3 linked regions of the Homo sapiens genome follow. The protein of the gene in region 1 purifies or fractionates together with the protein of each later gene. This does not show direct contact. Each region holds a gene or a part of one and is shown on either strand. Other genes may lie near its edges. The genes, in order: MEF2A, PTPN5 and SETX.

The links.
Region 2: the proteins of MEF2A (region 1) and PTPN5 purify together in Homo sapiens (affinity purification with mass spectrometry; one large-scale study listed by BioGRID and IntAct). This does not show direct contact.
Region 3: the proteins of MEF2A (region 1) and SETX purify together in Homo sapiens (affinity purification with mass spectrometry; one large-scale study listed by BioGRID and IntAct). This does not show direct contact.

The regions. Positions count from the first base shown.
Region 1 is NC_000015.10:99,673,839-99,677,490, forward strand, and holds part of MEF2A (myocyte-specific enhancer factor 2A), read left to right. Parts: intron 1-554; coding exon 555-774; intron 775-1,560; coding exon 1,561-1,620; intron 1,621-3,652. UniProt on the Homo sapiens protein: Transcriptional activator which binds specifically to the MEF2 element, 5'-YTA[AT](4)TAR-3', found in numerous muscle-specific genes. Also involved in the activation of numerous growth factor- and stress-induced genes.
Region 2 is NC_000011.10:18,739,725-18,743,376, reverse strand, and holds part of PTPN5 (tyrosine-protein phosphatase non-receptor type 5), read left to right. Parts: coding exon 1-55; intron 56-301; coding exon 302-385; intron 386-873; coding exon 874-1,115; intron 1,116-1,489; exon of another isoform or gene 1,490-2,584; coding exon 2,585-2,774; exon of another isoform or gene 2,775-2,953; intron 2,954-3,652. UniProt on the Homo sapiens protein: May regulate the activity of several effector molecules involved in synaptic plasticity and neuronal cell survival, including MAPKs, Src family kinases and NMDA receptors.
Region 3 is NC_000009.12:132,323,927-132,327,578, forward strand, and holds part of SETX (probable helicase senataxin), read right to left. Parts: coding exon 2,398-3,652; intron 1-2,397. UniProt on the Homo sapiens protein: Probable RNA/DNA helicase involved in diverse aspects of RNA metabolism and genomic integrity.

The sequences.
Region 1 (3,652 bases):
ATTGTTATGTATATAATTACTTTTTTTTTTTCTTAGTTTTGCCCTTTAGAAAGTTAGTCAATTAAATCAGAATGGGGAATATTTATGATTTATCAGATTTGACATATTAAGTTAATAATATGTGTACACACTTTTCTCCTTCCGTTATATTTGGGATCTCTCAGTAGAAATGTAATGTTATTAAGGTTTACATTGAAGTGCCAATTTATGCTTACTTGGTGACAGTGATATATTTTGTAATGTCTAAATATGACAACACTACTTGATTATCAGGTTTATCCTCTTAAATTTGTCTTTATGAATATTTGAAATATAGAATATAGACATTAGTATATATTAATGTATAAAGTTGAAATTGAAAAGGCTCATGTCAGTCATATTCATGTTCAAACATAATTCTAAAGAAAATAGCTTTAATCTGTAAATTGGTTAAGAACCTATCCCTATCCTCTACTTTTAGTAACTTGAGTTACCTTGCCAAATTAAAGTTCAAAAGTTACTTTGTAGATGAATACGAAACCAACAGTTTTTTCCTTCTTTTTCTTTATTTACAGCCTGGTCTGCCACCTCAGAACTTTTCAATGTCTGTCACAGTTCCAGTGACCAGCCCCAATGCTTTGTCCTACACTAACCCAGGGAGTTCACTGGTGTCCCCATCTTTGGCAGCCAGCTCAACGTTAACAGATTCAAGCATGCTCTCTCCACCTCAAACCACATTACATAGAAATGTGTCTCCTGGAGCTCCTCAGAGACCACCAAGTACTGGCAATGCAGGTATGTAGTGATACCTATTATGCTGGTTCTTTAATAAAGAGGGTGAAAAAATTCATTGCTAACATAAGCAGTTTCTTATTTTGCTATTCTTTTATTGCTTTGATGAGCAAGAATCACTGATACATAATTGGCCTCATTTTAAAGTATTTTTTTGAAAATCAATTGTGGGTGTAGCATTGTGTCATGCAAAGTAGAACAGTACTGAGAACCTGCCATTTATATGCTTTCCTTCTCATGGGAAAGCCATACTTTGACAGGCAGAAAATTTAGTTAGATATCAGAAGCAAGGATTTAAAGTAGAGTGTGAGCCATTCATGTTAGAAATATGGGTGATAGACTACCTGATTGGAGTTAGAGTATCTTTTACATCTCCTCCTGCCTGAATTACTTCATTAATTCAGCAAAATTTATGTTACATTTATTGTATTAGTCTATGAAATGCAGTGTCTCCTCTCTCTTAAGTCCTAGATTTAATTTAGTGATTTAATCATACTCCTTACACACTGCCCCCGTTTTTATCAGTATGTACTATTTTGGTATTGATGCAATACCACTATTTGGTATTGAAGGCGACATCAAGCTTGAAAGGTAAACTCATATATATGAGATATAATAACTACATCAGATTACATGTTAATGCCAACTTCAGACTGAGCTAGTTTTTATTTTTGTGTCTTTTTAGGATTAGAGTGAGAGTTATCTCTATTCAGTTCACGTTCAGTTAGGTAAAGAGAGCTAATTCATATTCATTCTCTGCCCTCTGTCTTCTCTCCGTAACGTTGTTAGGTGGGATGTTGAGCACTACAGACCTCACAGTGCCAAATGGAGCTGGAAGCAGTCCAGTGGGTGAGTGAATTCCTACTCTTCTGTTTTGTAGGTATCTATCCTATATGAGATCAAAGGAATGTTGTTCCTGAAATAAAGCTTTCTGGGAAATTTCCTTCTGAAGGGTACTTTCACTAATACATCAAGATAATTTCTTAAGGGGAGACTTTCTCTAACTTCCCTGCTTACCAAAGTTAGACTGTTACCAAACTACTCTATCTTACAACAGCATGAAATGTTTTCAGAGAGACTAGAATGAAAAGAAATGGTGGGTCTATCTACTTCTACAGATAGAAAGATAATTAACATATTTGTCTTGGCCGGGCGTCGTGGCTCACACCTGTAATCCCAGCACTTTGGGAGGACGAGGTGGGCAGATTGCCTGAGCTGAAGAGTTTGTGACCAGCCTGGGCAACACTGTGAAACCCTGTCTCTACTAAAATACAAAAAAATTTAGCTGGGCGTGGCAGTGTGCACCTGTAGTCCCAGCTATTCGGGAGGCCGAGGGAGGAGAATTGCTTGAATCCGGGAGGCGGTGGTTGCAGTGAGCTGAGATCGCATCACTGCACTCCAGCCTGGGCGATAGAGTGAGACTCCTTCTCAAAAAAAAAAAAATTATGGAGATGATTGAATGACTTAATAAAAATGATGAGGAAGAAATAAACAAACATCAATAAAGATATTATTAAGACAAGTTACAAAATATTTAATGACAAAGTAGGAATAAATGCCTAATTATATCTGCCACAGTATTAAATATTTTAATGGAATTAAACAGATAAGACCTATTGTGGAGTCTTACTTAACAGAAAACAATTAAATGTGGGAAAATACATAAAGGTTGTACCAGTTAAACACTAGGGCTGCTACTCTTGTATGTGTATTTCCAAATATTTATGGTTTTTTTTCAGCTCTTGTTTTAGTTGTTTGTATGCCTACATACTGTTTTTGTGTCCCTTTTTTTTTTTATTCCCCCAACAGAATAATAAGTTCAGGGCCCACCAAGAATTGTGAGAGCCTAATATGCTTCTCTCACATTGGGTTGACACCCCAAAAGGCTGGACTCTAGAAGTAAAGTAAACCAGAGATAAACAGTTCTTCTCAGTAGTGACATCTTACAGATGCATCATACAGTTTTGTTTTTTTTTTTTTGAGACGGAGTCTCGCTCTTGTCGCCCAGGCTGGAGTGCAGTGGCGCCATCTCCGCTCACTGCAAACTTCACCTCCCGGGTTCACGCCATTCTGCCTCAGCCTCCCGAGTAGCTGGGACTACAGGTGCCCGCCACCACGCCGGGCTAATTTTTTTGTATTTTTAGTAGAGACGGAGTTTCACCGTGTTAGCCAGGATGGTCTCAATCTCCCGACCTGGTGATCTGCCTGCCTTGACCTCCCAAAAGTTTGTTAAAATTAGATCGTAGTGATTAGAAATTAGATTTAGGGGTTCCAGAATGCCCGGAAAAGCAAATAGTCTCTGGAAGAATAAAATAAGCCTGGCCCACATGGCAAAACCCCATCTCTACTAAAAATACAAAAATTAGCCGGACGTGGTGGCAAGTGCCTGTAATCCCAGCTACTCAGGAGGCTGAGGCAGGAGCATCACTTGATCCCAGGAGGCGGAGGTTGCAGTGAGCCGAGATCATGCCACTGCACTCCAGCCTGTGCGACAAGAGCAAAACGCTGTCTCAAAAATAAATAAATAAATAAATAAATAAAATAAAACACCATCTCAGACCTTATTATTTCTAACTTGGCACATAAGCTGAACTAGGCACACACACAAATAAAGCAAATGAAAACTTGCAGAAATAAACAAACAATGGAATCAGCCTCCTGGGAACTCCAGAATTTGGAGTTACTAGGCACAGACTTTGACTTTAATATAACAGTGTTTACTGTGTTCAAGGGTATTTAAAAAACAAAAAGATTGAGAATTTTAGCAGAGAACTGAAATTTATTTAAAAAATGGAAATTTTAGAACAAAAAAACCCCGTAATGTTAAGAACTTAACAGATGGGCTTAAAAACAGATTGGACAAAGCAAATACAAGAATTAA
Region 2 (3,652 bases), on another chromosome or scaffold:
CGCCACAAACCTCGTCTCCTCTTTGCTGACGCTCCTGAAACAGCTGGAACCCACGGTAAGTAAGCTTTGGGGAGTCCTAGGGTAGCAGGGATCTGTTGGGGGCCTCTAGTCCCACCCTCCCCAACCTCCAGATTGGGCTTCTCTGAGTTCAGAAGATACTTCCAAGCCCCTGAAGTTCTTCTGCCTGCTCCCCATCCCAGACCTGGGACGTGATTTTCAGAATCTTGGTTTTGTCATCATTGCAAGAGCTGAGAACTCTGCCCCCACCACCACCCTGACCTGTTTATCTGATGTTCCCCAGGCCTGGCTTGACTCTGGGACGTGGGGAGTCCCCAGTCTGCTGCTGGTCTTTCTGTCCGTGGGCCTGGTCCTCGTTACCACCCTGGTAAGGCGCCTCCTGACCCCAACCTCAAGGCTGTCCTCCTCTGACCTTGAGGCCTGGATTTCTACCAGCTCCCATCTGACTTATAGGCTGGACATTCTGGGTGGGGCAAGGAGGGATACCTATCTCTTTGCACAAGTGTGCCAGCCTGGGGCAAGAGCCTCCTTCTTTCCGAAAATTGGTTTGCAGTGATCTGGGCTAAGGAAAGGGGATGAGACAGGGAGAAGACTGGTGTAGGAACTCCCAAGCCCCACTGAGAAGGCCTGAAGCCACAAGAAACAGAGAGCTGGGAGAGGGAGGGGCAGGGAAGGAGAGTGGGCATGGAGCCTCCCATCGAGGCCAGGGGCAGTGCCTTGTGGACAACTCCCAGGAGAGCAGAGCTGCTCTAGACACACTGAGGGAGTGGGGGGGCGTCAATCCCATGGGCACTCCAGGAACACGGGGGGCAGCCAGCGTGGTCCGAAATCTGTGATGCTGTACACCCCAACCAGGTGTGGCACCTCCTGAGGACACCCCCAGAGCCACCCACCCCACTGCCCCCTGAGGACAGGCGCCAGTCAGTGAGCCGCCAGCCCTCCTTCACCTACTCAGAGTGGATGGAGGAGAAGATCGAGGATGACTTCCTGGACCTCGACCCGGTGCCCGAGACTCCTGTGTTTGATTGTGTGATGGACATCAAGCCTGAGGCTGACCCCACCTCACTCACCGTCAAGTCCATGGGTCTGCAGGAGAGGTGGGAGGGGTGGAGGAGGGGTGGGCTCCACGGGCCCTTGAGCTCTTAGCTCCTGATCAGAAGAGTGGATGCCTGACTCTGACTCCTGGTGCCCAGGGCAGAGCTGGCCTTATAGCTTAGCCAGTGTAGACATGTGCTATCCAGGTCATTCATAGAGATCAAAGTGCCCCAAGATGAATGCTGAGAAATACTGTTACTGCACACGCACACATAGGTGTACACATGTTCACACACACTCTCCCATGCTCAAGTAAGTTTGGGTGGTTTTCTTTGCTGCAGGACTTGTCAGGGCCTTTAACATGCTTATGTTCATTGTAAATCAGCAAGGGGGCAGTATGTGGCATTTCCCAAAGTCACTTGACCACGGAACTCTATTTTTTTGTTTTACTTTTATTTTGGATTGAGGGGGTGCATGTGCAGTGTTGTTACCTGAGCATATTGCATAATGCCGAGGTTTGGGGTACAAATGATCCCATCACCCAGGTACTGAGCGTAGTGCCCAGCAGTTAGTTTTTCATCCCTTGCCCGCCTCTCTCCCTCCCTCCTCTAGTAGTCCCCAGTTTCTATTGTTGCCATCTTTATGTACCTGGGTACCCAATTAGAACCTGTTTTTATAGGGTAGCTCATAGTGTTCCACAGAGCACACTTTGAGAAGTGTAGACACCCTCGTTTCAGAGTCTAGGTGGGTGAGCCAGATCACACCAAATTTGAGTTACCCATGTGATGTCACAGAAAGAACACTGGGTGTGGAGTCAGGAAACCTAGCTTTTTATTTCAGCTCTGCCACCCCCTTACTGGGAGAGCCTGGACAACTCTTGGCCCTTCATGGGGACTCAGTTTCTCTTTCTATGTAATGAAGCCCCATCCTGTCCTGTGTCTGAGACTCTGAGTATAGTAGAGTTTGCCCATTGTAGACATCCTTGCGGCCACCGTGCTGCTCCTGGGACTCCCTCCTTCCTGACAGCGGGGGTCCTGGCCTCTCCTGGACAATATGTCCTTGACTCACCAGCAGCCTCATCCCAGGGCTGTTGGGCCCGGGACTGCAGTGGGGAGGGTCTGGAGCCATCCTCTCGGGCCCAAGCCCCGCTTCTGTGCTTCAGGCAGGTGTCCCCTCTCTGAGCTTCCTGGGGACCACAGGGTAGAACTTCCTCCAACGGTGATGGAGGAGAGTCCAGGGTAAGGCCATGTTGGGGTAGCTTTGGATGGAACTTTTAGAACTGGAGCCCCAAATCCCCACTAAGTTAACATCTCCACTGCAGGAGGCAGGAGATAGGGAGTCAGGCCAATGCCTCAGGGCTGAGATTCACGCTTCTTTGTCAGGGGGTCTTGTCACACTCCCACTCCTCTTCCTCAACCCCACCCTGTTCCCAGCTGATCTCTCCCTCCCTCATTTTCCCAGCCCTGGAGACCCCAGCTCATGCCCGTCCCTCTGCCCCTGAGGCTCACACTCCCTTTCCTGGTCCTTCCAGGAGGGGTTCCAATGTCTCCCTGACCCTGGACATGTGCACTCCGGGCTGCAACGAGGAGGGCTTTGGCTATCTCATGTCCCCACGTGAGGAGTCCGCCCGCGAGTACCTGCTCAGCGCCTCCCGTGTCCTCCAAGCAGAAGAGCTTCATGAAAAGGCCCTGGACCCTTTCCTGCTGCAGGCGGAATTCTTTGTGAGTTCCCTTGAGCCGGTCGCCCCACTGTGTGCAGACCCATGTCAATCATCCACCTGCCCAGGTGGTGGAGCGTGGTGCCTGGAACTCAGCATCTGCAGTAGATTAGTATCACTTTATTATCAGCTCTCCCACCATCTTGGGCAAGCTGCTTTCCCTCTGAGCTTCAGTTTCCTCATCTGGAAAATGGGGATGAAAATAATAGAATTGTTGCAAAGATTAAAGAGACTTATAACATGTGCAGAGCACCCAGCCAGGTGATGGAGGTACAGTGACAATGCTAAGTCTTTATTGCCCAGTGCTGTGCTCTGAAAGCCACAGAGAACCTTCACTTCTAACTCTTCTGTTTTCCCACTTTCCTCCTGCCGAGCATTGTTCTTCTGCCTTTGAAATCTCTCTAGTGGCCTCCCCTCGTTACCACCCCTGGGGCCCTAGCTTAGGTCCTAATCACCTCCACCCTGGCTTCTGCAGCAGCCTCCAGCTGCCTCCTATTGGACTTTGAGGGGCTCAATAAATGGCACCCCTGTTTACCTGCCTGAGTGCTCAGCCAGTTAAGAGCTAAGGCATAGGAGATTACAATATCACCTTTGTTGTCAATAAAATACAGGTTGGAAATGTGGCTTAGCAGGGTACAGCAAGAGTGAGCCTCCCGATACTGAGACCCAGAATTACATGCACTTTCCACCCTCCACAGGGGTGCCGGCACATCTCGGACCTTGCCGCATGGGGGCACCCCTATAATTCTTTCCTGGCAGGAGGGCCCTGAGAGGAGGAGGAAGGAAGGGGCTGAGGCTCCAAAGCTCCATTCCTCAACCAAATTCACCAAACAGGTAACTCCTCACTTCTGTGAGCAGGAAAAGGCAAGAGGCCAAGAGTAT
Region 3 (3,652 bases), on another chromosome or scaffold:
AAATGGAAAGAAATTTCCAAAGGACTCATTAAGAATAGAAAATAGTTACTTGAGGGGATGAGGGGTGCCTGATGTTCTTTATAATGGGCCAGATAGAAATCTTTGACTATTTTAAACTCTGTATATGTACAAATGGAACTTGTGCTCATTCTGTTTTTAAAAAGCTGAGACTACAAAAATGTCCTGAAGGAAATAAATCTTAATAAATATCTTTTAACTCAGGAAATGAAAGTAAGTGTCTACCCTTCATAGGGTTATGAATGGCTTCTAAGCAATTTAGTGCTTTCCAGCGAAAATAAAGCAACTCCTGCTAAAACAAAAGTACCTTAGGAAAAAAAAATAATAAAGCAACTCTCAAAAATGGCTAAAATTTGAGGTACGAATTGATCAAAAGATTTAACATAAAGTACATTGATGAAGATACGTTCACTCAAGCTTTATAAAAGCCATTTATCTTGCCATGTACAGTGTTAACAACTCACTTCTCTTCTTTTGTAGTAGACTTGTCCCTTTGTACATTACACTTCCTTCCCCAACACTCCAATCTTGTTACCAGACTGTCTTTGCACTCCACTCTGCCTGTAACATACTTCCCACAGTTAACTCCTAGTCACTTGGGTCTCAGTGTAAATATCATCTGCTCATAGAGGTTATCTGATCTCTCCAGAAAGTGCCCTGTCCCCTTTGTTCTAGATCATACTAGAGTCCTTATCTCAATCCCAAATGGTCACTTCCAGAGAGCAGAGACCTCACACCTGTCTTGTTCACCACTTTATCTCCCATGCTTGTAAGAGCACTTGGCACATACTAGGCACTCAAATATCTATCAAGCTAATGAACCATGACTATTTACCTCAACATTGTTGGTTTTAAGAGTATTACTGTATACACGAAAGTTTCTTTTGAGGATTAACTAAAAATTTGCTCCCACTTCTTACCTGCCTTGAAAACACACACACAAAAATCCTTCTAAACGCAGTTGAATGCTTACACTAAAGAATTATTTGATGTTTTTCTCAAATTTTAACGGGAATCTTATCGTTTGTCAACTCTACTTGAGTAAGGAGGAGAGAAGAACCAGAATAGGATGTGCTGGGGTTGGGGAGGCTGTTACACAGAGCAGCTGCTGTGATGAGTAAGAAACTGGCGGCCAGACGCAGTGGCTCACGCCTGTAATCCCAGCACTTTGGGAGGCCAAGGCGGGCAGATCACAAGGTCAGGAGATTGAGACCATCCTGGCTAACATGGTGAAACCCCATCTCTACTAAAAATACAAAAAATTAGCCGGCCGTGGTGGCGAGAGCCTATAGTCTCAGCTACTCGGGAGGCTGAGGCAGGAGAACAGCCTGAACCCGGGAGGCAGAGCTTGCAGTGAGCCGAGATTGCACCACTGCACTCCAGCCTGGGCGACAGAGCGAGACTCGTCTCAAAAAAAAGAAAAAAGAAAAAAGAAAGAAAGAAACTGGGAAGTCTGACGTGTAGGGAAATTTAGGATTCATTACTTTGTGTTCAATGTAATTCACCCTTTGCCACCTCCTCAAGAAAACTACAGCAGAGGTCTCTTACTTAAAAACAAAACAAATGCACATGGGAAACTATCTCCTCTGAGAAGTCTTCCTTTACCCGTGCGTCAATAAACATTTCCTTCTGTGTTACCTCTGCACTTGGTATATTAGCACCCTGAGTTGTGTCTATCAGCTCCAAGGAGCAGAGTTTCCAGCCAGGCACAGTGGCTCATGCCCGTAATCCCAGCACTTTGGGAGGCCGAGGCTGGTGGATCACCTGAGGTCAGAATCAGAAGTTCAAGACCAGCCTGACCAACATGGTGAAACCCCTTCTCTACTAAAAATACAAAATTAGTGAGGCCTGGTGGCGCAGGCCTGTAATCTCAGCTACTTGGGAGGCTGAGGCAGGAGAATCACTTGAACCTGGGAGGCAGAAGGTTGCAGTGAGCAAAGATCGCACCATTGCACTCCAGCCTGGGCAGCAAGAGCAAAACTCCACCTAAAAAAAAAAAAAAAAAAAAGTGTTTCCTCTGTATTGCCAGTATCTAAAACAGTGGCTGGCACAAATGTCTGTTCAACATGAAATCTAAAACCAGTATCTAAATCGAAACGGTCAATTTTAATTTAACTATACTTTTTTTTGTTTTTTCTTTTGAGACAGAGTCTCACTCTGCCGCCCAGGTTGGAGTGCAGTGGCGCGACCTCGGCTCACTGCAACCTCCGCCTCCTGGGTTTAAGCAATTCTCTGCCTCAGCCTCCCGAGTAGCTGGGATTACAGGTGCCCGCAACCACGCCTGGCTGATTTTTTGAACTATACTCTCATTTTCACTCAGCAAGGTAAAGAGGTAACTTGAAAAGTTTGGAGAGGCATACAAATGAAACACATACTTACTGTTTCAAAAGTATTCAATACCATCAAAGGGAAAAAAACATTAAAATAATCTCCATAATTGTGAAATCTGACAGGCACAGGTCTTGAGATGGACTGACAAAGACTTGCAGGGGGCCCACACTGACCAAAGTTCAAAAACATTTCATATTTCCATTTTAAGACCTCTTTAACGAAGGTGTCAGAGACAGACTGTGATGACAAAAGAATGTTTACTGGAGAGGAAGATGGAAAATATTTGCTTTCACCAAATGGAACTTTGCAACCTTGCCTGTTGGAATTATTCGGAGACTGAGGATGAAGAACATTGCACGAATTCTTCATTTCACCAACTGGCTTCTGAGCTATGAGGGGAACTGGCTGTGGTACTTTCAAAATCGACTGTATCCCCTTTGACTTATTTTTTAGAGACGGTGAAAGTGCTGAAGAAGTTTCCAAAGATTTAGAAAGACCAGCAATTCGTGAAGTACTCTTTGAGCTAAAAATCTTAGTGGTAGGTCTCAAAGGTTTAGATGCAGGAGGAGGCAAGCCAGGTTTACGAAATACATCTTCATCTGCTGCTTTCACTTCAGAGTGTTTTGGGCAGTATTCACCCTGGTTTTTTGTGGTTTCAAGACAATCTTTGTACTTACACTTTGTGCCACTCAAAGATTCCAACTGAGGCCGACTTACAGAATCTTCTTCAACCTCAACTGTATCTTTTCCATGAATTAGTTCAATGAGTTTATAATTGTCATTCTCCATTTGTGAACATAAATCCATATCTTCAGGATCATTTTGGGTTAAAAATAAGTTATCTTCCTCTGCATCACTGCTGGAGTCAGGCTCTCCTTCTTTCAAAGCTGCCATCTCTATATGACGTGCTGTTGGATCACCTCCACCCAGAGGGTCTTCTGAAGTGGAGACAATTACTTCATTTGTTGGTACTGTTCCATTTAACACTACAGAATCACACTGGTTCAAAGGGCAAGCATCATCAGTTGCTGGAGACCCATGTTTTGCTTTTATGGTTTCTGGTTCAGAAGGCATGCATTTTATTAACTGTTTTCTGTTACTGTTGGCAAGTACCTCAGTTCCTCCTGTACAATTATAATCTGACCTATCAGATTCTGGTACAAATATGTCAGAATTCTGTGCTGTATGTGACCCTGCTCTTTTAACATCTGTACTTTCACAATCAGAAAGTCTTCGTCTATTTTTTTGTGATTTGGGTCTGATCTGCCTTTGCATCTGAAGTTCTTGACTAGTCAGAAGTTTC